7 linked regions of the Homo sapiens genome follow. The protein of the gene in region 1 interacts with the protein of each later gene in a pairwise test. Each region holds a gene or a part of one and is shown in the gene's direction. Other genes may lie near its edges. The genes, in order: EXOC1, CAMSAP2, WASHC1, RUFY2, SNX18, SYBU and MLLT10.

Region 1 (3,500 bases):
GTTTGTTTGTTTTGGTCTTTAACTTTGTAGGCTAACATCCAGTCAATCATGGCATCTGAAAAACAAGTCAACATCCTGATGAAATTGCTAGATGAGGCTCTAAAGGAGGTAGATCAGATTGAATTGAAACTGAGCAGTTATGAGGAAATGCTCCAAAGTGTAAAAGAACAAATGGATCAGATCTCTGAAAGCAACCACCTAATTCATCTTAGTAACACTAATAATGTAAAACTCCTATCTGAGATAGAGTTCCTTGTGGTAAGTATGATCATAAATTACCAACAAAAAAAAACTAGTGATGATATATAAAACCCATTTGTAAACATTTTTTAATTTCCTTGTGAGAACAGGATTTAAAATAATTCCAAAGACCTAATGATAGGACTGAATAGCATCTTGCCTGTAAATTTCCCAAAATTACACATGCAAATGGTGTGTTTGCATATATTCTAGAACCACATGGACTTGGCCAAAGGTCATATAAAGGCCCTTCAGGAAGGAGATCTTGCTTCTTCCAGAGGCATTGAGGCCTGCACCAATGCTGCTGATGCCCTTCTGCAGTGCATGAATGTAGCTCTTCGACCAGGTATGTTCATTAGAAATGACAAAAATGTGACCAAGAATGTGAGACTAAGCCTGTAACTTGTTATAAAGGTTTTGACAAGAAATACATGAGACAAGTGGTTTAAGGGTTACATTATTAGCTATTCAAGTTTCACTGATTTCCCAACTTATTTCTATTGATACTAGGAACTTTTTTACTTCAGTTCCTCCTTCTAATTGTCCTCAATGACTATAGTCAACACCATGATCTTTATTTAGTACTATCCACAGAACCCAGCAGAAAGTAGGTGCTTTGGTTAGACGAGAGCAATTATTTCAAAACTTGAGTGTCCGTCAGAATCCCTAGAGGTCTTGTTAAAAACATAGATTGCCTGGCCCCAGTCCCAGATTCAGCAGATCTGGGCTGAGATTTTAGAATCCACATTTCTAACAGTTCCCAGGCGATGGTGAGGCAAGACCACACTTTGAGAACTACTGTGAAATCCCATTTTTCTCCTGCTTAACTTTTATCATGTAAATGAATACACCCATAAAACTTTTGGGTTCTTCAAAACGTTAGATACGTTTAATGTTCCATTAAACATCAAGGAAATCTTTTTACCCATTAAACTGGTCACAAAATGTCGTTCTGTGTCAGGCCATGACTTGCTTCTGGCAGTCAAACAGCAACAGCAGCGATTCAGTGATTTGCGAGAGCTTTTTGCCCGGAGACTGGCCAGTCACCTCAACAATGTTTTTGTTCAACAGGTAATTTTATTTTATTATTAAAACGAGCATGTTCCTATAGCTTATTTATGTATTAACCTTACATTTCCACAAAAATGTTAATATGTTTAATTGGGGTTGCAGTCAATTCCTTCACATATTTGATTTTAAGATTTTGAAATAGGAGCCTCTTTGCTCATAGATGTACTTTGGGCCTCAGCTGCCTCTTTTGGTAGACAGTCTAGTTCCTTTCAGCTGATGCTCTCTGATTCTAGAAATCAAATAACTATGCATATGAATTGCATATACTACTTAGATATTTTTATTTATAAAGTAAGTCCAAACTTGTTAGATATTTACTATTGGACCTGTTTTATTTTTCAGTATTTTGAGGTGAGACTCAGGACTTGATTCAGTGTTTTAAATGTTTTGTAAGTTCTATGTACTTAGTACATAGTATAATTGTTAAGAAAATGACTAGCTCAACTGCAAATTTCAGTTGATCTAATCTTCATATAAATGCTTTACCTATATTTTTATATGGAAAAGGATGTTATAATTAAGAGTGTGGTAATAATATTGTTATTAATAATATTAAGAGTACCTTTGAGGGATTTGAATAAAAGCCATTTTAATATCTAATACAATAAATTAGGTTTCTTATTTTTTCATCTCTTTTAAAAGTCCCTTTTATTTTATTAGAGTTATAGAATGAAAAAAAATTGGGGGAATATCTCGTTCATCAAGAAATACTGCCTGAAAACAATGGATTTTTACTTTATTTTCACTTTGCAATATTCTAAAACAATTGTATTTACTATATTTTATTTCCAATTAGTTTACTCAGGCCCTCCTTCAACTCTATAACAGGTCCTACTTTCTTTCGGTTCCTGTGAGTACATCAAATTTGGCTCAAGCTTCTCTGATTCTGTTTTTTTTTTTCTATAAAGTTTGCTAAACTTAACAGCAGCCGAATCTTTACAGATTATAACTTACTGATTTAAGCTACCTGTTAACCACATTCGTAGCAGTTTTTAAATGTCCCATAGTAGAGACTATTTTGGCCAAAAAAGCATTTAATCTCATTCTGCTTGCTTTTCTTTCTGTCATTTTTTCACTCCATTTAGTAATAAATAGTAATATTACTCCTTCATTTAGTAATAGTAGTAATATTAATCCTTCATTTATTTAGTATTGCCAGGTGATTGAGGTACATACCAGACATTAACTTGGGATAAATGAGAGACCAATCCTGTCCTCTAGTAGTTCACAGTCTAGGGAAGCGAGACAAACAAATAATATACTCAAGAGGGATAAATGTTATGACAGCGAGACTGTGGGAGTGTAAAGGAAGACCACCTAACTAAAAGCACGGTAGGGGGGAATCAGAGAGATTCCCTTAACATTCCACTTGACTGAAAAGTGTCGAGAAAAAAGTAAGCTTAAATGTCACATAGGAAATACTAATTCATGTTTTTGTTAGGTACTTACTTCAATAACATCTATTTCTATACAATTCCTTAGTTTTTAAAAATGACACTGTTGACAATTATGTTATCCACATTTGTTAGATAGTATTGAAAATACCAGCCAGTAAACAATAGTCTTTTCTGTACCCTTAACTGTTTGTTGTAACATGCAGTTATTTATGATTTTGCTTCTTGCCTTGTAAACTAATGGCCTCGTTTAAAATGAATGCTTCCCATTTCTGAAAAGCTGATATGTGTTATTACATGTGAGTGATGCATGTTAAAAATCAGAACGCTGCGACAACCTGGGGTGTGCCAAAAACGGTGGAAGAAGATATCCCACACATAAGAAAGATTTTCTTAGTGTTGCATTCAGTGCATCAGGTCACCTAGCAAAATTGTTGAGAAACATGGGTATTTCTATTCCTGGTAGGGAGACAAGCTGGGAAAATTGATTAAAATAATATGGTACACCTCTTTGGCAATCACAGAATTTTCATTGTATGCTTATTATGTACTCACTGTCTACCATATATAAGAATAAGCAATAGTTCCTACCCTCAAGATGCTTGTAAGAAGGAATTAAAACTAATGTACTTACTCTTTGTAAGGAGTTAAGACTAATGTACATTAGCAATGTATGTAATAAATTGCTAATTGTAGAACTGTGGACTGTAAGTGCTAAAAAGGTTTAATCAAAAGTGAGTTTATTGAGAATTTAAGGAGTGAGATATGGAAGGAATTGCAGATAAGGTAGGACTT
Region 2 (3,500 bases), on another chromosome or scaffold:
ATTTCAAATTGGTGAGTTTCATTTTACTTTTTTATATATCAGTTTTTATGTTTATAAAAATGAAAATAATTCATATCTCACAAAGACATTGAGATGTATATGAAAGTACTTCAAGTTGTTTGGCTAAAAGACATAAAATATATATAGATACATACTGTAATCACAGCCATTCTTTGGTTTAAACAATATGTTTCCATATTTTTAAAATTTAGGTTGTAGAATGAGAGGTGGTAGTGTTGTTTCTAACTTAAGACATTCTACCTAAATTTATATTAAACAGCTAAAATATAACATTTTAAATTTATTTTCCATTGCAGTGGGGAAGGAGCTACATTTACACAGTCTCATCATCATTTGCCTTCTAGGTATTCACGTCCCCAGGCTCATTCTTCAGCCTCAGGTAATATATTTGAAAAAGCCTAGGAAAATACTCTTTTAAGTAGGTTACCTGGGAAATGATTGACAGTAAATATAAATAAACAAATATCCAGGGTTTTTTTGTGTGTGTGTGTGTGTGTTTTTTTGTTTGTTTGTTTGTTTTCTGAAAAATGGCTATTATAACACACTAAAAGCATGGTCAGTTTCACTGTGGTTGCTTTTCTTGATAAAATTATCTCTAATTCTCCTTATGTACCTATTTAATTTGTATTGCTATTAATGAATCCTCAAATACATGAAATCTCCTAAGTTGCTATAAGTTAATTTTTTTACATGATTTCAATGGCTTTTTCTTTTTTGCATTTGAAGGAGGAATTAGAAGGTCTTCATCTATGTCTTATGTTGATGGCTTCATAGGGACATGGCCCAAAGAGAAAAGGTAAACAAAGAGAATTACTTTTAGTGTATTCAGATTATTAAGAAATGCAAATTGCATCTGTGTCTCTCTTTTATTGATAACCAAATTGCTAAAACTTTTAATTAGTTCCTAAATTTGAAAAAGGCAGTATAGGCAGATGATAGAGATGTAAAAGAGGCTAACTTTAAAAAGTAGCTAGATAGCCCTCCCCTTACCTTGAAGACAGTATGATTATGAGAACTGGGGAAAGAAAGGAAATGTAATTTCAAATAATTCTTGTTAAATGATACTAAAAATCATTTCTAGGATTTTTAAAGGATTTTTCTCTTTAACTTTTTTTTAGATCATCAGTGCATGGCGTATCATTTGATATTTCTTTTGATAAAGAAGATAGTGTACAGAGATCCACTCCAAACCGAGGAATCACTCGTTCTATTAGTAATGAAGGACTTACTCTGAACAACAGTCATGTATCTAAACACATTAGGAAAAATTTGTCCTTCAAGCCAATAAATGGAGAAGAGGAAGCAGAGAGCATTGAAGAAGAACTTAATATAGATTCTCACAGTGACCTCAAATCTTGTGTGCCCCTTAACACAAATGAACTAAATTCTAATGAGAATATTCATTACAAGCTTCCAAATGGAGCTTTACAAAATAGAATACTTCTTGACGAGTTTGGCAATCAGATCGAGACACCAAGCATTGAAGAAGCATTACAAATAATTCATGATACTGAAAAATCTCCTCATACACCTCAGCCAGACCAAATTGCTAATGGCTTCTTTCTTCATAGTCAAGAAATGAGTATCTTAAATTCAAATATCAAGTTAAATCAATCTAGTCCTGATAATGTAACTGATACGAAAGGTGCCTTGAGTCCCATAACTGACAATACTGAAGTAGACACTGGAATTCACGTTCCTTCAGAAGATATTCCTGAAACTATGGACGAAGATTCTTCGTTGAGAGATTATACTGTAAGCTTGGACTCTGACATGGATGATGCATCTAAATTTCTTCAGGATTATGATATTCGAACTGGCAACACCAGGGAAGCTTTGAGTCCTTGTCCAAGTACTGTAAGTACCAAGTCTCAGCCAGGCAGCAGTGCTTCTTCTAGTTCTGGAGTTAAAATGACCAGCTTTGCTGAACAAAAATTCAGGAAACTGAATCATACCGATGGAAAAAGTAGTGGAAGCAGTTCTCAAAAAACTACACCAGAAGGCTCTGAACTTAATATTCCTCATGTGGTTGCTTGGGCACAAATTCCAGAAGAAACAGGGCTTCCACAGGGACGGGACACTACCCAGCTGTTGGCCTCTGAAATGGTGCATCTTAGGATGAAACTAGAAGAAAAGAGGCGTGCTATAGAAGCCCAGAAAAAGAAAATGGAAGCTGCTTTTACCAAACAGAGACAGAAAATGGGAAGGACAGCATTCCTTACTGTAGTGAAAAAGAAAGGGGATGGGATATCTCCTCTACGAGAGGAAGCGGCGGGTGCAGAAGATGAGAAAGTATATACTGATCGAGCAAAAGAAAAGGAATCACAAAAAACTGATGGACAAAGGAGCAAGTCACTGGCAGATATAAAAGAGAGCATGGAGAATCCTCAAGCCAAATGGCTAAAGTCTCCAACTACACCTATTGATCCTGAGAAGCAGTGGAACCTGGCAAGCCCCTCAGAAGAAACTTTAAATGAAGGAGAGATTTTAGAATATACCAAATCCATTGAAAAGTTAAATTCATCCCTGCATTTTCTACAACAAGAAATGCAACGCTTGTCACTTCAGCAGGAGATGTTAATGCAGATGAGAGAGCAACAATCTTGGGTGATTTCACCTCCACAACCCTCTCCACAGAAACAGATTCGAGATTTTAAGCCTTCTAAGCAGGCAGGCCTGTCATCAGCCATTGCACCATTCTCCTCAGACTCCCCTCGTCCTACTCACCCATCTCCACAGTCTTCTAACAGGAAAAGTGCATCTTTTTCTGTTAAAAGTCAAAGGACTCCTAGGCCAAATGAGTTAAAAATAACACCTTTGAATCGAACCTTGACACCTCCTCGGTCTGTGGATAGCCTTCCTCGGTTAAGGAGGTTTTCACCAAGTCAAGTTCCTATTCAAACTAGGTCATTTGTATGTTTTGGGGATGATGGAGAACCTCAGTTAAAGGAATCCAAACCTAAAGAGGAAGTTAAAAAGGAGGAATTGGAATCCAAAGGGACTTTGGAACAGCGTGGACATAATCCAGAAGAAAAGGAAATCAAACCTTTTGAGTCAACAGTCTCTGAAGTCCTATCACTGCCTGTCACAGAGACTGTATGTCTGACACCAAATGAGGACCAATTGAATCAACCCACAGAACCCCCTCCTAAACCCGTTTTCCCACCCACTGCTCCAAAAAATGTTAATCTGATTGAAGTTTCCCTCTCAGATTTGAAACCCCCTGAAAAGGCTGATGTACCTGTTGAAAAATATGATGGAGAAAGTGATAAAGAACAATTTGATGATGACCAGAAAGTATGCTGTGGATTCTTTTTTAAGGTGTAGTATTAATCTGCATAGTTTTGGGCATCTTCATTAGATGAGTGTGGTTGTGTTGGATATTTTTTTTTTCAGTTGACATGCTTGCTTCTTTCAGTAGCAGTCCCTTTTGATACAAGTTCATCCCCATTAACTATAGTAACATTCAAGCACACTGT
Region 3 (2,722 bases), on another chromosome or scaffold:
CCTTCCTCATGAACCCCAGTCGCGCCTCTGCCTTCTCATCCCTGCGCACCACACAGGCTCGCTCGTGCCCGGTGAGTGCTGAGGCTGCTCTGCACGTGGAGTATGGCCCTGTGGGCAAGGGCTGGGCTCTTGGAGGTAGGGGAGCTACAGGGGCGACTGGGAGGAGGATGTTGTGTTACACACGCATCAGAGTTAACTTTGCAGTGAGAGCGGCCTTGCTGCGGCCAAAGAACATGGAAAAGCATGAGTGGGGTGATGTGCCTTAAAGCATCAGACACTTGGGCCTCGGGCATCAGGAGCCAGCCACAGGGATGTCTGGGGAAATGGCGTTCCATGAGATGCAAGCACACAAGAATGCACTTGGCACATCTGGGGAACAGCAGGCAGCTGATATCACTGGGCCCACCCCGCACCAGGGAGGATGGAAGCAGGTGAGGAGCTAGACCACACTGAGGCGGTGGTCGGGACTCGGGGTTTGCTCAGTGAGCCGTTCACTATGTGCAGGGGCAGTTCCCCGTCTGAATTTAGGTGACGACACTCAGGTCCAGCCTTGCCAGTCTCAGCCTCCGGTCTCCGTTCCCCCTCTGCAGAGGCCACATTGTCTGCTGCACGTGATCATGAGGGGTTGTGAAGTGCTTGCCCCATCAGTAGCCATGTGTGCATGTGTAAATACCATCCTCTGTGTGCCCTGGAGGCTGTCCTTCAGATAGCATGTACAGGTGGCAGCATAGGGCCTGTCCCTTCTGAGAGTGCAGGGAACTCAGCACCGTCAACTCCTCGACCCTGCAGGTCAGATTATCCTTGTAGAGGCCCCCTGGATGGCACCAAGATCGGCCCTGGCAAGTAGGTGACCCTGACTTCAGAGCCCTTGCCTGAGGGCCTGGCCTGGCAGCTCTGCTGTTAGAAGCAGGAGGTGTGCAGAGGGTGGGGAGCAGCCCAGCCTCTGTGATCTTCTCCATGGCAGGATCTCCCAGCAGGTAGAGCAGAGCCGGAGCCAGGTGCAGGCCATTGGAGAGAAGGTCTCCTTGGCCCAGGCCAAGATTGAGAAGATCAAGGGCAGCAAGAAGGCCATCAAGGTAGTCCCCATACCCCTGTGTCCTGAGGCTACTGGGCAGTCCCTCCATTTCCCCGTGCCTCTGAGGCTGCCCAGTCTCTGCCCTGCTGCCCACCTGTACCTTGAGCTTTCTTCTCGCCCAGGCTTCCAACTCCACCCTCTCCTGCCAAGCAATCCTAGCCCTCTGAGCCTCTTGGGGCCCCCTCAGACTTGTCCCTGTGTCCACAGGTGTTCTCCAGTGCCAAGTACCCTGCTCCAGGGCGCCTGCAGGAATATGGCTCCATCTTCACGGGCGCCCAGGACCCTGGCCTGCAGAGACGCCCCCGCCACAGGATCCAGAGCAAGCACCGCCCCCTGGACGAGCGGGCCCTGCAGGTCTGCTGGCCGCGCATATAGCCTGTCACACACCAGGAGGACTGGATACTGGGGAGGAGCCGGGGCCACCATAGGGTTCTGTCCCCCAGAGGAGGCTGACTGGGATGGGATGGCAGCTGATTAGGCCCAGCACCAAATATTCACCATCCCTTGGCCATCCTGGCCCTCTCAGGAGAAGCTGAAGGACTTTCCTGTGTGCGTGAGCACCAAGCCGGAGCCCGAGGACGATGCAGAAGAGGGACTTGGGGGTCTTCCCAGCAACATCAGCTCTGTCAGCTCCTTGCTGCTCTTCAACACCACCGAGAACCTGTATGGCCAGAGGGCAGGGCCGAGGGGTGTGGGCGGGAGGCCCGGCCTGGCTTAGTGGGGACCCAGGGCATCAGACACAGGTACAGCACATAGGCCAGGAGCCAGGGGGTGACTGGGGTGGCTCGGCTCGGGAGGCCTGGGACCCCACAGTGCACACTGTGCCCCTGATGATGTGGGAGAGGAACATGGGCTCAGGACAGCGGGTGTCAGCTTGCCTGACCCCCATGTCGCCTCCGTAGGTACAAGAAGTATGTCTTCCTGGACCCCCTGGCTGGTGCTGTAACAAAGACCCATGTGATGCTGGGGGCAGAGACAGAGGAGAAGCTGTTTGATGCCCCCTTGTCCATCAGCAAGAGAGAGCAGCTGGAACAGCAGGTGGGAGGGGTGGGACAGAGGTGGAGACAGGTGCAGTGGCCCAGGGCCTTGCCAGAGCTCCTCTCCAGTCAAGGCTGTTGGGCCCCTTATTCCACCCATGGGAGGTGCACACAAGGTCTTGTTGGCTGCCCCTGCAGGTCCCTGTCACCTCTCACATGTCCCTGCCTAATCTTGCAGGTCCCAGAGAACTACTTCTATGTGCCAGACCTGGGCCAGGTGCCTGAGATCCATGTTCCATCCTACCTGCCTGACCTGCCCGGCATTGCCAACGACCTCATGTACAGTGCCGACCTGGGCCCCGGCATTGCCCCCTCTGCCCCTGGCACCATTCCAGAACTGCCCACCTTCCACACTGAGGTAGCCGAGCCTCTCAAGGTAGGTGAGCTGGGTTCTGGGATGGGAGCTGGGCCGGGGACCTCCCTGCTCACACACCTTCTTCCCTAGACACCCCACACTTTGTGTTTCAGACCTACAAGATGGGGTACTAACACCACCCCCACCGCCCCCACCACCACCCCCAGCTCCTGAGGTGCTGGCCAGTGCACCCCCACTCCCACCCTCAACCGCGGCCCCTGTAGGCCAAGGCGCCAGGCAGGACGACAGCAGCAG
Region 4 (3,975 bases), on another chromosome or scaffold:
GGCACGCGCCACCACGCCCGGCTAATTTTTGTATTTTTAGTAGATATGAGGTTTCACCATGTTAGCCAGACTGGTCTCGAACTTCTGACCGGGTGATCCGCCCGCCTTGGCCTCCCGAGTAGCTGGGACTACAGGAACATGCCACTACGTCTGCCTAAATTTTGTATTTTTAGTAGAGACGGAGTTTCACCATGTTGGTCAGGCTGGTCTCGAACTCCTGACCTCGTGATCTATCCAGCTCAGCCTCTCAAAGTGCTGGGATTACAGGCATGAGCCACCATACCCAGCCGAGGTCTGAATTTTAGTGCTTGTGTGGATATTGCTGTGGCACATAATGAAATATTTTTGAATTGTTTTCTCTCTTTTTTCACTTTAGCTTTTTGTAATGAGCTTTACCAAATTGTTTTAGGGCGGGCTGTGTGGCTCAGGCGTTATCCTAGCACTTTGGGAGGTCGAGATGGGCGGATCACCAGGTGAAGAGATCGAGACCACCCTGGCCAACATGGTGAAACCCCGTCTTTACTAAAAATACAAAAATTAGCCGGGCGGGGTGGCGCGCGCCTGTCATCCCAGCTACTCAGGAGGCTGAGGCAGGAGAATCCCTTGAACCCGGGAGGCAGAGTTTGCAGTGAGCCAAGATCACGCCACTGCACTCCAGCCTGGTGACAGAGCGAGACTCCATCTCAAAAAAAAAAAAAAAAAAACAACCCAAAAAACAAAAAAAAGTCGTAATTTGGGACTAACTAGTTTTATTAGGTTTCTGCCTACTGTTAATTGCTTCAGATTTTCTAAATTCTTTTGGTCCCCTTTGTGTTTGTGAAGGTGAATGGGCAGTAGTCAGGCGTGTTAGATCAGGCCCCACCAGCCCGGTGGAAGCAACGTTTGCGTGTGGCCGGCCGCCCCTTGAAATCCGGCCTTCGCGCTCCAGCGAAGCCCCCGGGACACGGGACCGAGGGCCCAGCACTCTGGCTCCTCACACATGTGGTCTCCTTCACGTTCCTTTCCTTCTCCTCGCGGTCCCAGCGGATGCGAGGAGGCTTAGAGACGGCGGGCTTCTCTCCCGCCCGCCGCAGGGTCCGCGGGTCCCCGCCCCGCCCGGGGCGCCGCTCCCCCTGGGGCCGCCCGGGCGCCCTCCCGCCGCCGGGGGCGCTGTGGGCTGCAGCGGGCCTGGCTGCAGATGCGGTGGTGGCCGCCGAGCGCCTGGAAGGAGCTGCTGGACAGGCCGAGGGAGCCTCCGCCCGAGACCGCGCAGCCGCCGCCGCCATGGGTAAGGCGAGCGGGCCGAAACCGAACGCTAGGCCCTCAGTCCCGGGCTGAGGGCCGCGGCCAGGCGGGGTGGACTGGGAGCTGGGGGAGACGCCGAGGCCGCCAGTCGGAACTGGGGCCCGAACCCAGGATGGGCGGGGACTGCCTGGGACTCGGGGGCTCCCGGGGTCGTCATGGCAACGCGCCCCCTCCCTTGTTCCGGCCCGTTCCCGCCCGGGTTCTGAGGCATAGTGGCCGAGGGCTCGAGGTGCCACGGCGTCCAGGAGCGAGGACAGGGCCAGGCAGGGTGTCACTCCCGGGTCGGGGAGCAGGCGGGGAGGGGCGATGACTTTTCAGGTTTGGGGGTGGCGGAGGGAAGACGCATCTCAGGTTTTGGCCTGGGTGCCTGACGCCGAGGGCGGGAGACGGGGAATGCTGACGCGCAGGAGCCTGGGTGAGCCCGCCGCGATGGTCCTGGGGGGCCCCCAGGCCTCTGGGCAGCCTTGCTGGGGGGAGGGGGCAGGAAGAGAGGCAGGGAAGGGGCTCTAGGCCCCGGCAAGGTGCGGGCACTGGCCCTGGTACTCCTTGCGCGCCTGCGGCCGGGTTTGGGGGTCGCGTACGGGCCGGAGAAGTCCTGTAGCGCAGCCGGGGCGTGGCCGCGGTGTGAACGCCCCTCGGCGTGGGAACTGCCGGTGCCCAGCACCGATCTGCCTCCCAGCAGCTGCAAAACACCCTTTGTGTGGTTGTCGCATCGCACGTTAGGAATTATGATGGGCTGTGTTAAAAATGAGAGTTGCCACGGATTATGAAACATGAAGTGGTTTCACTCCCGAAAAATAGTGGGAGTCAGACCACGATGCAGATTTGAAGGAATTCGTGTGTGGACATTTTTCCACCAGGCAGTTTGGCCATAGCAGTTGTGGCTGTTTGCATTTTAGGTTGCTTAGGATTCAGTGTCAGGCTTCATGCCTAGCTATCTAGAAATCGGAGCTGGAATACTAGATCATTGGAGACTCTGGGTTTTTTGTTGTTGTTGTTGTTCAGTGAAGGAAAAACGGGCACATTGATTACTTGTAAATTTGTCAGAGATTATGAAATGTTATACTAAGTGCTTCGTTTTTCCACACCTTAGTTTTGTCATCTGTGTTTGTTGAAGGTATTCCCACCAGTCACAACAGTGATGAGATGATGGGGAAGCGTCTGAATTTCTAAGTAAACTGAGAATAAAATTTGCGGGAAGGAGGACAATATTTTTGTGAATTGAAAATATCTTACTTGATGATACTGTGTCTTAAAAATATCAATTAAAAATCAGGCCTTTTAGAATTTGCATCTATTAACTTGGTATTCAGACTGGCGCTGTGGGCATCCTCAACTGTGTGGATGGGTGAGGAACATTAATGTAAAACTGGTCTCTGCTTTTATTTTCTCTTTGAAAATAAAACAGTCATGCAATACAGAACTACAGTCAGAATGAAGAAGCCAGACAGAAAGAGGGTAGACGAAAGAATTGGACGGCTTCTTCTGTGTCCCCTTGTCAGTGTATTTTACCTGTCATGTTTGTTGTGGATGACACTGGAATCCTAGAATTTTAACTACCTTTTATTTTATTGCCAGTTTATTCTGAACATTTTTGCCTTGGAATTCATCCTAAGACCGTACCTGCTATCTACCTTTTGCATGAGGCCCTTAAACCTGTTGTCTCTCACCCCAAATTTATCTCCATAGAAGATCATTTTAAAAAACTCATTCTCTATGAAGAGGTACCAGGAAAGTTAAATACAGGAGAATGGCAGATTTGCAGGATCTTGAGAATAATTCATTAACTTTGGCTGGAGTGGTCATGGAAATTTTCTTTTTTCTTTCTTTCTTTCTTTTTCTTTTTTTTTTTTTTGTGAGACGGAGATTCGCTCTGTCACCAGATTGGAGTGCAGTGGCGCTATCTCAGCTCACTGCAATCTCCGCCTCCTGGGTTCAAGTGACTCTCCTGCTTCAGCCTCCCGAGTAGCTGGGACTACAGCCGCGCACCACCATGCCCAGCTAATTTTTGTATTTTTAGTAGAGACGGGGTTTCACCATGTTGGCCAGGATGGTCTCAATCTCTTGACCTCATGATCCACCCGCCTTGGCCTCCCAAAGTGCTGGGATTACAGGCGTGAGCCACCGCGCCTGGCCGGAAATTTTTTACAGTATATGTGAGAGATGTAAAGAGAAGTTAATCAAGGGTGTGGTTTAGCTGGGGAGAATTTGTCAACCAAGGAACAGCAAACTACTGTTGGTTTTTATAGGGGAAGGGAATGGTTTGTATATTTTTCATTGTCATGTCTTACAAATGATGTTGGATTCCTTTCTTGTGTTTTCAGCTACAAAAGACCCCACAGCTGTAGAGAGAGCAAACTTGTTAAACATGGCTAAACTGAGTATCAAAGGACTCATTGAATCTGCTCTGAGCTTTGGCCGCACTTTGGATTCTGACTATCCCCCCTTGCAGCAATTCTTTGTTGTTATGGAACATTGCCTGAAACACGGTCTTAAAGGTATCATGAGATTTTAAAAAATTAATTCATTTTAGAATTTCCGTTTTTCAAGTGCCCTTGAGAATGGGTTATTTTTTGAGGCCATAATTACGTTACTGTGCACTAAAAAATATTGAGTGGATTGATTTTGGGAGAAAATATCTTATGACTATGTTTTCTAATAATGGAATAATAAATGGTCTTCAGAAAATGC
Region 5 (3,500 bases), on another chromosome or scaffold:
ACGAAACTGGGTGTGGGCACCGCTCATACCACACCGTCAGGGGTTTCTCAGACTTCTTTTTTGAGCCACATAGCCTTCAGAGTCATGCCGACCACAGTGGGACCGAAGGGAGGCAGAGGACCTGCACTCCCACCCTCCTCCCAGTAACTCAGGGAGCCTATGAGGTTTCCTTGTTCAGCAATGTTGTCCTGTCTGGCCATCTTAGGACTTCTAAGCATAATGCCAGAACCCAAACAAGTGAGAAGTTCTGTGATTCACTTACAAACACTTCCCTTGAACTATTTAATATGTTCCTTCTCTTTGGGCTGAATAAAAAACTATTATTGTATTACCCCATGTATTTTTAAATCAAAGTTTAAATATCAAGTTAGATTTAATTTGCCATATATTTTTGAAGCTCTGTATCATTAACTAAAGGATTATAAAGTGGCAGAGTAATGCTGAGCTCTGTTTGACAAGATTATATCCGGAAGGCAGACGTGTATCATGTCTCATATTTATACAACACAGACTAGAATCTGGCCGCTCTGCCGGTGTCTGCAGGAGGGCTGGGTAGGCCTCTGGTCTTAAGTGAGTTATTTGACTAGCTACAGAGACAGGTCAGCCAGCCTCGGCAGTTCCTTGTGCCAGGATTCTGAGAGCCTGGTGGATGGGCCAGTCTGCCCCAGGAGTTGCACCAAGGGGTGGGACTGAGCTGGGTCTGCTGAGGAAGCTGTGCCAGTGAAGGGGCAGCATGCCAAGCCAAGAAGCCGTGGGTGCAGAGCCTCATCGCAGTGGGAGCTGGCCTGTCGGGACCAGCATGGGCTCTGGAGGGCCAGTGTGTGGGCATGGAGGAGTTTTGGACAAGCTATTTTAACCTGCGTAACGCTCACTTATCTTTGGCCAAGTGGGGGCACTTCCTCACGAGGTCAGCATGAGAATTAAATGTTATAGTTCATAGTAGCTAGTCACTAAATGTTTATTTTTGAAAAATAGATGGGTGAATTTAAAAGGAGATGACAACCAGGCATGGTGGCACATGGCTTTAATACCAGCTACTTGAGAGGCTGAGGGAGGAGAATCACTTGAGCCCAAGAGTTCAAATCCAGCCAGAGCAACACAGTGAGACCTTGTCTCTTTAAAAAAAAAAAAAAAATTAAGGGCGCTCTCCTTTGAAGGACAATTCCAGTAATCTTATCATCCCTCCTGGCAACCTATTGCCACCAGAATTGTAGGCAAAAGTACAAAAGCTCAAGGAGTCTTCAGTCTAGCAATTAAATATCTGCTTTAATCAGTTCGCCCTGTATTGCACACCGGAAGTAATGGCAACTGGGATAAATGTAGATGTTGTTTGGAGTCAATCGTTTGTTGTTGTTCACATTGAAGAGTGTATGTAAACTGTCTCCTCCTGGCTCCCCTCTAACCCAAATCACGTGTTCTGGTGCAGATCACTTAATGTTTCTGAGCTTCAGTTTCCTCATCTGTAAAAGTGAGGTTCATTATTTCCTAGGTACTATTTTGTTAGTTGACTTTTTTAAAAAAATAAGAGTAGTCTTAAGTATCCAGGAAACTTTTAGACATTGTTTCAGGCTGATTTTAATAGTGTTCTCTGTCTACTTATGTGACTGTTTTACGGGAGCATGAAAAGCCCTTATCAGTTGATGTGAAAGAACATTTATGCACGTTTAGTTCAGATCAGCAATCACGCATTGCAGGCTTACCTCACTAGGAACTTCGAATGTAAAAGTGATTAATACCTGGCCTGCTGCTGCCTGGTGAGGGTTCCCGGGTGTTCTGAAGCTGTGGTATGGTAGACAGCTGGAGCGACTTCTCTCTGACCCAAATTAATAGGACTACCAAAGAGATAAATTATGACAGTTTTTTAAAGATGGAGTCTTGCTCTGTCACCTAGGCTGCAGTGCAGTGATGCGATCTCGGCTCACTGCAACCTCTGCCTCGCGAGTTCAAATGATTCTCCTGCCTCAGCCGCCCGAGTAACTGGGATTACAGGCATGTGCCACCATGCTTGGCTAACTTTTTTATTTTTTTTAGTAGAGACGGGGTTTCACTATATTGGCCAGGCTGGTCTTGAACTCCTGACCTCAAGCAATCTACCCACCTTGGCCTTCCAAAGTGCTGGGATTACAGGTGTGAGCCACCGTGCCCAGCCTCTGATATTGATCTTATAGCTTGATTAAACTTTAATTTGAATGAGTTTTAGTTCACTTGTCATTTCTGTACCTTTTCTTATGACTTATCTGTCACTGTGATTTGACTTTCCTCTTCTGCTAAATAAATTGTTATTTAGCAGGTAAGGGGACAGTGAAGGAAGGGGAGATAAAATCATTAGATTTATTCATAGGACCCTCTAAAAGATAAACTAGATTTTATTCAACAAATACGTATGTACCCATCATCGTCCAGGCACTATTCAAGATGCTAGTGTTGCATCAGTGGCCAAAACAAAGATCCCCACCCTTGTGGAGCTTGCAGTCTAGCAGGGTGGAGACACTCAATGAAAAACAAACACAGGAGGTAAGTTTTGATGTATGTTGGAGTTTGGTATGTGCTAGGAGAAAACAGTAGAGCAGGGAAAGAGGGCATGGGAGGCAGGATGAAGTACTAGTAAGAGTGCTCAAAGTAGGTCTCATTGAGAAAGTGAGATTTAAGCAGAGACCTGAATCACTCTGGAGTCAGGAGAGTCGTCCAAGCAGGTATCTCGGGGGAGAGCTTTTCAGGCAGAGGGTTTAGCTAAAGTAAGGCCCTGGGGTGGACATGTGCCAGGCAGGTTGAGGAACAGCAAGGCCAGGTGGTTGAAGTTAAGAGGATCCTAGGAGATGAGGTCATGGAAAGTCAGATTTGCAAGGCTTTGCAGGTCACTGTTAGGACTTGGAATGAAAGCCCGAGTCAGATGGAAGCAATTACAGGATTTTGAGCCAAGGTATGACATCCAACTGGACATATTAACAGACTTAGTCCAGAGCAATGAGAATAGAATGGCGTGTGGCAGTCAAAGGTGGATGGAAGCAGGGAGCTAGTAGGAAATACTCCAGTAATCCAGGTGAGAGATGCTGGTGGCCTGGACCAGAGTGGAGACAACAGAGGTGGTGGTCGGGGAGCCGGGGGGGGGGGTCCCCCTCCAGCTATATTTTGGAGGTAGAATCAACAGGTTTTCCTGAGAGATGGGATTGTGAAGGATGTGACATGCAAGAGAAAGGGGAGTCATCAAGGGTGACTGTAATTTTGGCCTGTTTGGCCTGGCCTACAATAAGAATTGTCAGAACAGGGGTGGGGAGCAGCAATCAGGAATTGAGTTTTCTCCTTTTAGGTAGATCAGGCTCATGCATTCTGCTCCATGTCTCCCCACCCCAACACAAGCACTTTCTAGCTTCAGGTCTAGTCCCCTTCCTTGGAGTATCCCCCTTGGATTGTAGTCCTTTTGTGAATAATTGTCTGTGCGGTGCTCAGTTATTAGTGTGTGGGTTATGTTTTTATGTTCCTGTGTTGTATAGCTGTTAACT
Region 6 (3,500 bases), on another chromosome or scaffold:
GTGTGTAAGTGTAAGGGAAAGGCAAGGGCAGTGAATGATGAAAGAGCTGAGCAACAGCCACCAAGAAGGGTTCTCATCACCCTGTTATTCAGGGCCAGAGTTTCTTCAGGAGTTCAGGAAGAACGCAACGTATTTAAAAGAGCCCGAAGACTGCAGGCATGAGCAGCACCCTAAAAACCATTCACTTCCAGAAACAGACCACAGAGGTCCTGCGTATGCTGATAGACCAAAAAGTCAAAACACGATTATCAAGAGAAATAAGTCATTTTATTAGTGCCAAGTTCACTCTGTTCCAGGAATTGAGATATTTTGTAATTGAAAAATGAAATAAAGGCCAAAAAATGAAGCAATGGTAATTCTTTCTTTAGATGGATTCTAGCAATCAGCATGTTTTATTCAGGCTTAGTTCTGTTTCTATCTTTATTCAAGCTGTAGAGTTTTAAGATAGCCTTTGGTAGATGGCACATTATTTTAGTTCCCGTAATATTCACAAGATGTCTGAAAAGTTATTAGTACTGAATGTCTTTATTTGTTCTTTGTCTAATGAGTTACTAAAGTAACTCTGGCATCAAAACATCTTCATATAATAAAGATTATTTAGTAAAGTAAATTTACCACTAACTGATCAGTTTGAGTAGATGTACTTTTAAGTAATACTGATTTGGCTTTGAGGTCCAATACAGTTCTGCTCATCAAAATATAAATAAATTAACCAACTATCCTAAGTACTTTAATAAATGTGGAACGCATTTATAGGAGTCAGCAGTATGACTTTCCTGTTTCCATAATAAGCATCTATGTAGGTCACTTCATATCGTGCATATTAACTTAATATAATCACCCTGGTAATAATCTGTTATTTGAAAGTTAAAGGAACATTTCTAGTCTAAAAATCATTTTCATCTTACCAGTTTACTCCAGATAGCAATATATCTGATTTATGTATTTTTGGTTGTGTGTGTATGATAAAACAGGATCACTTCACACTGCTTCTTTGAACCCTAAAGTCGGATGACTTATCTTTCAAACTCTGTTAACCAATTGATGGGTCAAGTGATCCAAAACTGGATGTGGTCAATAATATTCAAGTAATTTTATTTTCCAGATGTAAACTCTGAAGAGTTCACCCTAAAGATCCTGAATTGTTCTGGTGAACTTCTTATTACTAAACACATCCAAAAATCTATGGACACATATGACCCAAAAATACACTATATAAAGTGTTGAAACAGACATGTCTTTATGTTTTGACAAAATGAGTGTTACAGAAATATTTGTGTCAAAAAGCTTACAAGGGGCCGGGCATGGTAGCTCATGATTGTAATCCCAGCACTTTGGGAGGCTGAGGCAGATGGATCGCTTGAGGCCAGGAGTTTGAGACCAGCCTGGCCAACATGGTGAAACCCTGTCTGTACTAAAATACACACAAAAAATACCCGGGCCTGGTGGCATACGTCTGTAATCCCAGCTACTTGGGAGGCTGAGGCACGAGAATTGCTTGAACCTGGGATGTGGAGGTTGCAATGAACTGAGATCACGCCGCTGCACTTCAGCCTGGGTGACACAGTGAGACTGTCTCAAAAAAAAAAAAAGGTTTTGCATTAAAATATGGAAAAATGAAAGGAGCGTCATGAGAGGAGAGTCCACAGCAGTTAACCTGGGCTTCATAAGCAGAGTGTACGTGTGCGAGTGCACGTGTGCGTGTGTGTGGTGCACCGCATGGCTTCTCACCATCATTGATTTCCTCCTCATCATTAAACACTTATTGATTCCTGTCTTCTAGATGACACAGGCTGTCCTAGCAGCCAGTCAGTGTCTCCTGTGAAGACACCCTCAGATGCTGGAAACAGCCCCATTGGCTTTTGCCCTGGAAGTGATGAAGGCTTCACCAGAAAGAAATGCACGATTGGAATGGTTGGTGAAGGAAGCATTCAGTCCTCTCGATATAAGAAGGAATCAAAGTCAGGCCTTGTGAAACCAGGTCAGTGAACTTACTCGTCATGTTTTCATCAGAACAATGTGATGGGAGTAGTTTCATGTTTAAAACTAAACACCTGTATATCGAGTCGGGGATCACAAATACCGTACCCAGCATCTAAAGCATCATTTTTAAAGGAGGCAGGGTGGAAAGTGGACTATTTTCTGAAATGGTTTTTAATAACTGAGTAACTATAGTGACCTATAGTGACATGTGTATTCATTATAAAGAGCTTTTTTTAAAAAAGAGACAAAAGTGAAGAAATATAAGCCAGATGTTTTAACAAGCATTTAAACTATATGAGTAATTCTAGATTCAATTATACTAAGCAATTAGTTAGTACTATCATAAGTGACCACAAACCGTGAAGAGAACAGGTTATCTCAATGCAAATCTCTGTAGAGCTGGGAGTTATCTTGATGCAAATATGTAGAGCTGGGCATACTTGCTAACTTAGTTATAGTCTTTTAGAGATTTAAATATGAATATGATATGTATAAACACATGTAAATGTTCAATAATTACAAAATATTAGAAGCTATAAGATGAAATGGAGGTCATCACTGCAGTGAATGAAATGCCAGCAGCATCAGAAAAGGTCAATTCTCAGAATCTGCACTATGTAAATGAATATTTTGTATCTCAGAAATACACATGCAGTATATTTACTTTAAAGTAAAAGGATGTGTTCATCGTCATTGGGAGGTATCCTCTAACATTGCATTATTCTCTTTAACATTCACAGTTATGCTATCCATATTTATGAGCTGAAAAGACAGATTACTGGCTTGCATGAGTCCTTGTTTCTTACATTTGTCTTCTAAGTTTTGTTTGGTGATGACATTATTGTGCAAGGAGCTACAGATGGTTTTATTTTGATGGGGCCAAGGCCTAGCCCTGTGTCCTCTTCCATAGGATGCTAACATTTCTTTCTGCTTTTGTTCTTCCTGAGTCACTGATGTACACAATACATCATAATGGATTATTCTTCATCTTGCTCTTGTCAACCAAAGATTAGGTCATTTTGTCACCAAGGAAAACTTAAACTGTGAAAAAGAAATCCTCTATTTCCTAGTGGTGCCTGATAAATGTTAGTCATAATGAATTCGTTAATAGTCTCCCACTTTGGAATAATATGTAAAAGAAAAGGAATGCTACACAATGAAGAAGGAAAGACAGCCTATAAATGAGAAAGATGGGGATGATACAAAGGGTGTTGAGCACCCTTGATATTTAAGAAAGAGACAATGAGTTAAAGAATGTCATGAAATTTTAGCCAAGAAATAAAACAATTACCTTGTGTACCCAAGGGCTAGGACTGTCTCCCTTAGCTCAACTGCCTTTTTGAAAAATTGAGATATGATTCATATACCATAAAATTCACCCTATAAAGTGTTCAATTCAATAGTTTTTAGCCTATTCAAACTGTTGTGCAAACATCACCATTTACTAATTCCAAAAAGTTTGTATCACTCCCAAAAAGAAACCCCAAGTCCATCAGCACTCTGTTCCCCCTTTCCCC
Region 7 (3,500 bases), on another chromosome or scaffold:
GTTATAGCAAATTCCTTTCCCTTGGTGTTGATTATGGAATTAGACTGAAGGTAGAGAACAAACATTTTAGCTTCTTTACCTAGGCATATAGCAAAAGCAGAAGCTTTTGTGTTTGCCTGGGCAATTTTTGAGCGGTAGAAATAATGGGCTGGGTGCTGTGGCTCGTGCTTGTAATCCTTGCACTGTGGGAGGCCAAAGTGGGTGGATGACCTGAGGTCAGGAGTTTGAGACCAGCCTGAGCAACATGGCGAAACCCCACCTCTACTAAAAATACAAAAATTAGCTGGGTGTGGTGGTGTGCACCTGTAATGCCAGCCACTTGGGAGACTGAGGCAGGAGAATCGCTTGGACCTGGGAGGCAGAGGTTCCAGTGAGCTGAGGTTGCGCCACTGCACTCCAGCCTGGGCGACAGAGCGAGACTCGTCTCACAAAAAAAGAAAGAAATAATGGTTGAGTAACCTATAAAAATGTGTTGAGTCTCAGAACTATTTGTATTTTATTATTTTGAGACAGTCTTGCTCTGTTCCCCAGGCTGGAGTGGAGTGGCGCAATCATTGCTCACTGCAGCCTTGAAGTCCTGAGCTCAAGAGATCCTCCTGCCGCAGCTTCCTGAGTAGCTGGGACTTACAGGCCTGTAGCACTTAACACCCAGCTAATTTTTTAATTTTATTTTTGAGACAGTCTCGCTCTGTCGCCCTGGCCGGAGTGAAGTAGCGCCATCTCCGCTCACTGCAACCTCTGCCTCCTGGATTCAAACGATTCTCCTGCCTCAGTCTCCCATGTATCTGGGACTACAGACATGCGCCACCACACCCAGCTAATTTTTGTACTTTTAGTAGAGATGGGGTTTCACCATGTTGGCCAGGCTGGTCTCGATCTCCTGACCTCAGGTGATCTGCCTGCTTTGGCCTCCCGAAGTACTGGGATTACAGGCGTGAGCTACCACGCCCGGCCTGAATTTTACTAGAAATGAGGTCTTGCTTTGTTGACCAGCCTCGTCTGGAATTCCTGAGCTCAAGCAGTCCTCCTACCTCAGCCTCCCAAAGTGGTGGGATTACAGGTGTGAGCATCCGTGCCCGGCCAGAGCAATTTTTTTATAGTTCCGATGATATGTTTTGGTTGTGTGTGAGAATGCACTTTAATAGAATTACAGCTGTTATTCTAGTGTGATTTAGCAAATGGAGGATAAAATCAATCATAGAAAGTTTGGGACTTGGTGAAATCTTTATAGCGTTACTCTTTGACTTTTTTTTCTTTGTATCATGTTACGGTTTGTGGTGAATAGGTCACTACGCAGTGGAACGTATGGTTTATTAGTAAACACTGACAATGAGATGAGGCTGTTCCTGGGGGTGTCACAGTAGATTGAAGGCTGGAAAAGATAGGAAAATAAGGTGGGTATTCAGAGAGAGAAGATAATGAATAGGGAGTGTCAGAATGCCAGCATCATTTGCCTCAAATGCCACTTGTTACGTGCTTCCACTCTTTTATTCTCTCTGAGGACATGGTCAAAGTGTCAGTGTGAATAAGGTAGTTAACTTAAAAGGTGTATTAGGGCTGGGCATGGTGGCTCAAGCCTGTAATCCCAGCACTTTGGGAGGCTCAGGTAGGCAGATCACATGAGGTCAGGAGTTCGAGACCAGCCTGGCTAACATCTTAAAACCCCGTTTCTTCTAAAAATACAAAAAATTAGCCGGGCGTGGTAGTGAGCGCCTGTAATCCCAGCTACTCGGGAGACTGAAGCAGGAGATCCGCCCGAACCCGGGAGGCAGAGGTTGCAGTGAGCTGAGATCGTGCCATTGCACTCCATCTTGGGCAATGAGTGAAACTCTGTCTCAAAAAAATATATATATATTAGATGCTGCTGGGAGCAGTGGCTTGCGCCTATAATCCCAGTGCTTTGAGAGGCCGAGGTGAGAGGATCACGCCTGAGTTGGAGATCAGGCCACAAGTTGGAGATCAGCCTGGACAACATAGTGAGACCTTATCTCTACAAAAAGAAAAAAAAAATTAACCACATGTGGTGGTGTACTTGTCCTAGCTACGTGGGAGGCCGAGGCAGGAGGATCCATTGAGCCTGTGAGTTTGAGGTTGCAATGAGCTATAGTCACACTACTGCACACTAGTCCAGGTGACAAAGTGAAACCCTCTTTAAGAAAAAGAAGTTTTTGCAGGGGGGCATTTTATTTTAACATCATTTGGTGGGATGTGGGTGACATTAAGGTTTTTTTTTTGTTTTTTTTTTGAGACGAAATTTTGCTGTGTTGCCCAGGCTGGAGTGCAATGGCGCGATCTCGGCTCACTGCAGCATCCGCCTCCCGGGTTCAAGTGATTCTCCTGCCTCAGCCTCCGGAGTAGCTGAGATTACAGACACCATGCCCGGCTAGTTTTTTGTTTTTCTTTTTTGAGATGGAGTTTCGTTCTTGTTGCCTAGGCTAGAGTGCAATGGCACAATCTTGGCTCACCACAACCTCCACCTCCTGGATTCAAGCGATTTTCCTGCCTCAGTCTCCCCAGTAGCTGGGGTTACAGACATGCGTCACCATGCCCGGCTAATTTTTGTATTTTTAGTAGAGACAGGGCTTCTCCATTTTGGCCAGGCTGGTCTCGAACTCCTGACCTCAGGTGATCCACCCGCCTCAGCCTCCCAAAGTGCTGGGTTTACAGGCGTGAGCCATGTTGCCTGGCCAAGGATTTTTAAAGAAGAGGCAAAAGCAAAACCTTTTTAAAATTATATTTAAAAATATATATTATGTTTTTTTGGAGACAGAGTTTAATTCTTGTTGCCCAGGCTTGGAGTGCAGTGGCATCATCTTGGCTCACTGCAACCTCCGCCTCCCGGGTTCAAGCGATTCTCCTGCCTCAGCCTCCGGAGTAGCTGGGATTACAGGTGTGTGCCACCACGCCCAGCTAAGTTTTGTATTTTTAGTAGAGATGGGGTTTCTTCATGTTGGTCAGACTGATCTCGAACTGCTGACCTCCGGTGATCTGCCCACCTTGGCCTCCCAAAGTGCTGGGATTACCATTGTGAGCCACTATGCCCGGTCTGTAGTGTATAATTATGAAAGGCAGGGTCCTTTGTAAGAAACAGATAAGCAAAGAAAGGGCATTGTATTATAAGGACACAGGAGTCAAGAACCCTAACATGGAAATGTATTTCACCCAGAAAGGGAATTGAATTAGTCTTATGAATCTTTTTTCTACTTTTGTCTGCATGCCTGCTTCCATTCTTTTCTTTCTGCCGACTTACTGTGCTACTTGTTCCAAAATGAGTAGCTAACTTTTTGAGTGTTTACTATGTGCCCACATACTGTGCTAAATGTTTTATGCCAGTTACTTCATTTAAGCATCCTGTCACATCTATGAGGTGGATATTATTCTTACTTTATGGGTAAGGATACTATAGTTTTAAGAGAGATAGATGTTTTATGACAGTCTGGGATGTGATTAAGCTCTTAACCACTGTGTTACCTCTTAACCACCATGTTGCCTCCTATGGT

What was found.
Region 2: the proteins of EXOC1 (region 1) and CAMSAP2 interact in a two-hybrid assay, tested with the Homo sapiens proteins (one large-scale study listed by IntAct).
Region 3: the proteins of EXOC1 (region 1) and WASHC1 interact in a two-hybrid assay, tested with the Homo sapiens proteins (one study listed by IntAct).
Region 4: the proteins of EXOC1 (region 1) and RUFY2 interact in a two-hybrid assay, tested with the Homo sapiens proteins (one large-scale study listed by IntAct).
Region 5: the proteins of EXOC1 (region 1) and SNX18 interact in a two-hybrid assay, tested with the Homo sapiens proteins (one large-scale study listed by IntAct).
Region 6: the proteins of EXOC1 (region 1) and SYBU interact in a two-hybrid assay, tested with the Homo sapiens proteins (2 studies listed by BioGRID and IntAct).
Region 7: the proteins of EXOC1 (region 1) and MLLT10 interact in a two-hybrid assay, tested with the Homo sapiens proteins (one large-scale study listed by IntAct).

The regions. Positions count from the first base shown.
Region 1 is NC_000004.12:55,870,648-55,874,147, forward strand, and holds part of EXOC1 (exocyst complex component 1), read left to right. Parts: intron 1-30; coding exon 31-258; intron 259-453; coding exon 454-586; intron 587-1,201; coding exon 1,202-1,311; intron 1,312-2,107; coding exon of another isoform or gene 2,108-2,161; intron 2,162-3,500.
Region 2 is NC_000001.11:200,846,893-200,850,392, forward strand, and holds part of CAMSAP2 (calmodulin-regulated spectrin-associated protein 2), read left to right. Parts: intron 1-317; coding exon 318-400; intron 401-747; coding exon 748-817; intron 818-1,139; coding exon 1,140-3,342; intron 3,343-3,500. UniProt on the Homo sapiens protein: Key microtubule-organizing protein that specifically binds the minus-end of non-centrosomal microtubules and regulates their dynamics and organization.
Region 3 is NC_000009.12:16,735-19,456, reverse strand, and holds part of WASHC1 (WASH complex subunit 1), read left to right. Parts: exon of another isoform or gene 1-311; coding exon of another isoform or gene 312-431; intron 432-964; coding exon 965-1,076; intron 1,077-1,282; coding exon 1,283-1,429; intron 1,430-1,601; coding exon 1,602-1,738; intron 1,739-1,977; coding exon 1,978-2,113; intron 2,114-2,290; coding exon 2,291-2,492; intron 2,493-2,580; coding exon 2,581-2,722. UniProt on the Homo sapiens protein: Acts as a component of the WASH core complex that functions as a nucleation-promoting factor (NPF) at the surface of endosomes, where it recruits and activates the Arp2/3 complex to induce actin polymerization, playing a key role in the fission of tubules that serve as transport intermediates during endosome sorting.
Region 4 is NC_000010.11:68,404,478-68,408,452, reverse strand, and holds the start of RUFY2 (RUN and FYVE domain-containing protein 2), read left to right. Parts: upstream 1-1,175; 5' UTR 1,176-1,263; coding exon 1,264-1,267; exon of another isoform or gene 1,268-1,590; coding exon of another isoform or gene 1,591-1,699; exon of another isoform or gene 1,700-2,628; coding exon of another isoform or gene 2,629-2,632; intron 2,633-2,987; exon of another isoform or gene 2,988-3,008; intron 3,009-3,608; coding exon 3,609-3,782; intron 3,783-3,975.
Region 5 is NC_000005.10:54,524,259-54,527,758, forward strand, and holds part of SNX18 (sorting nexin-18), read left to right. Parts: intron 1-3,500.
Region 6 is NC_000008.11:109,617,323-109,620,822, reverse strand, and holds part of SYBU (syntabulin), read left to right. Parts: intron 1-1,783; coding exon 1,784-1,981; intron 1,982-3,500. UniProt on the Homo sapiens protein: Part of a kinesin motor-adapter complex that is critical for the anterograde axonal transport of active zone components and contributes to activity-dependent presynaptic assembly during neuronal development.
Region 7 is NC_000010.11:21,540,732-21,544,231, forward strand, and holds part of MLLT10 (protein AF-10), read left to right. Parts: intron 1-3,500. UniProt on the Homo sapiens protein: Probably involved in transcriptional regulation. In vitro or as fusion protein with KMT2A/MLL1 has transactivation activity. Binds to cruciform DNA.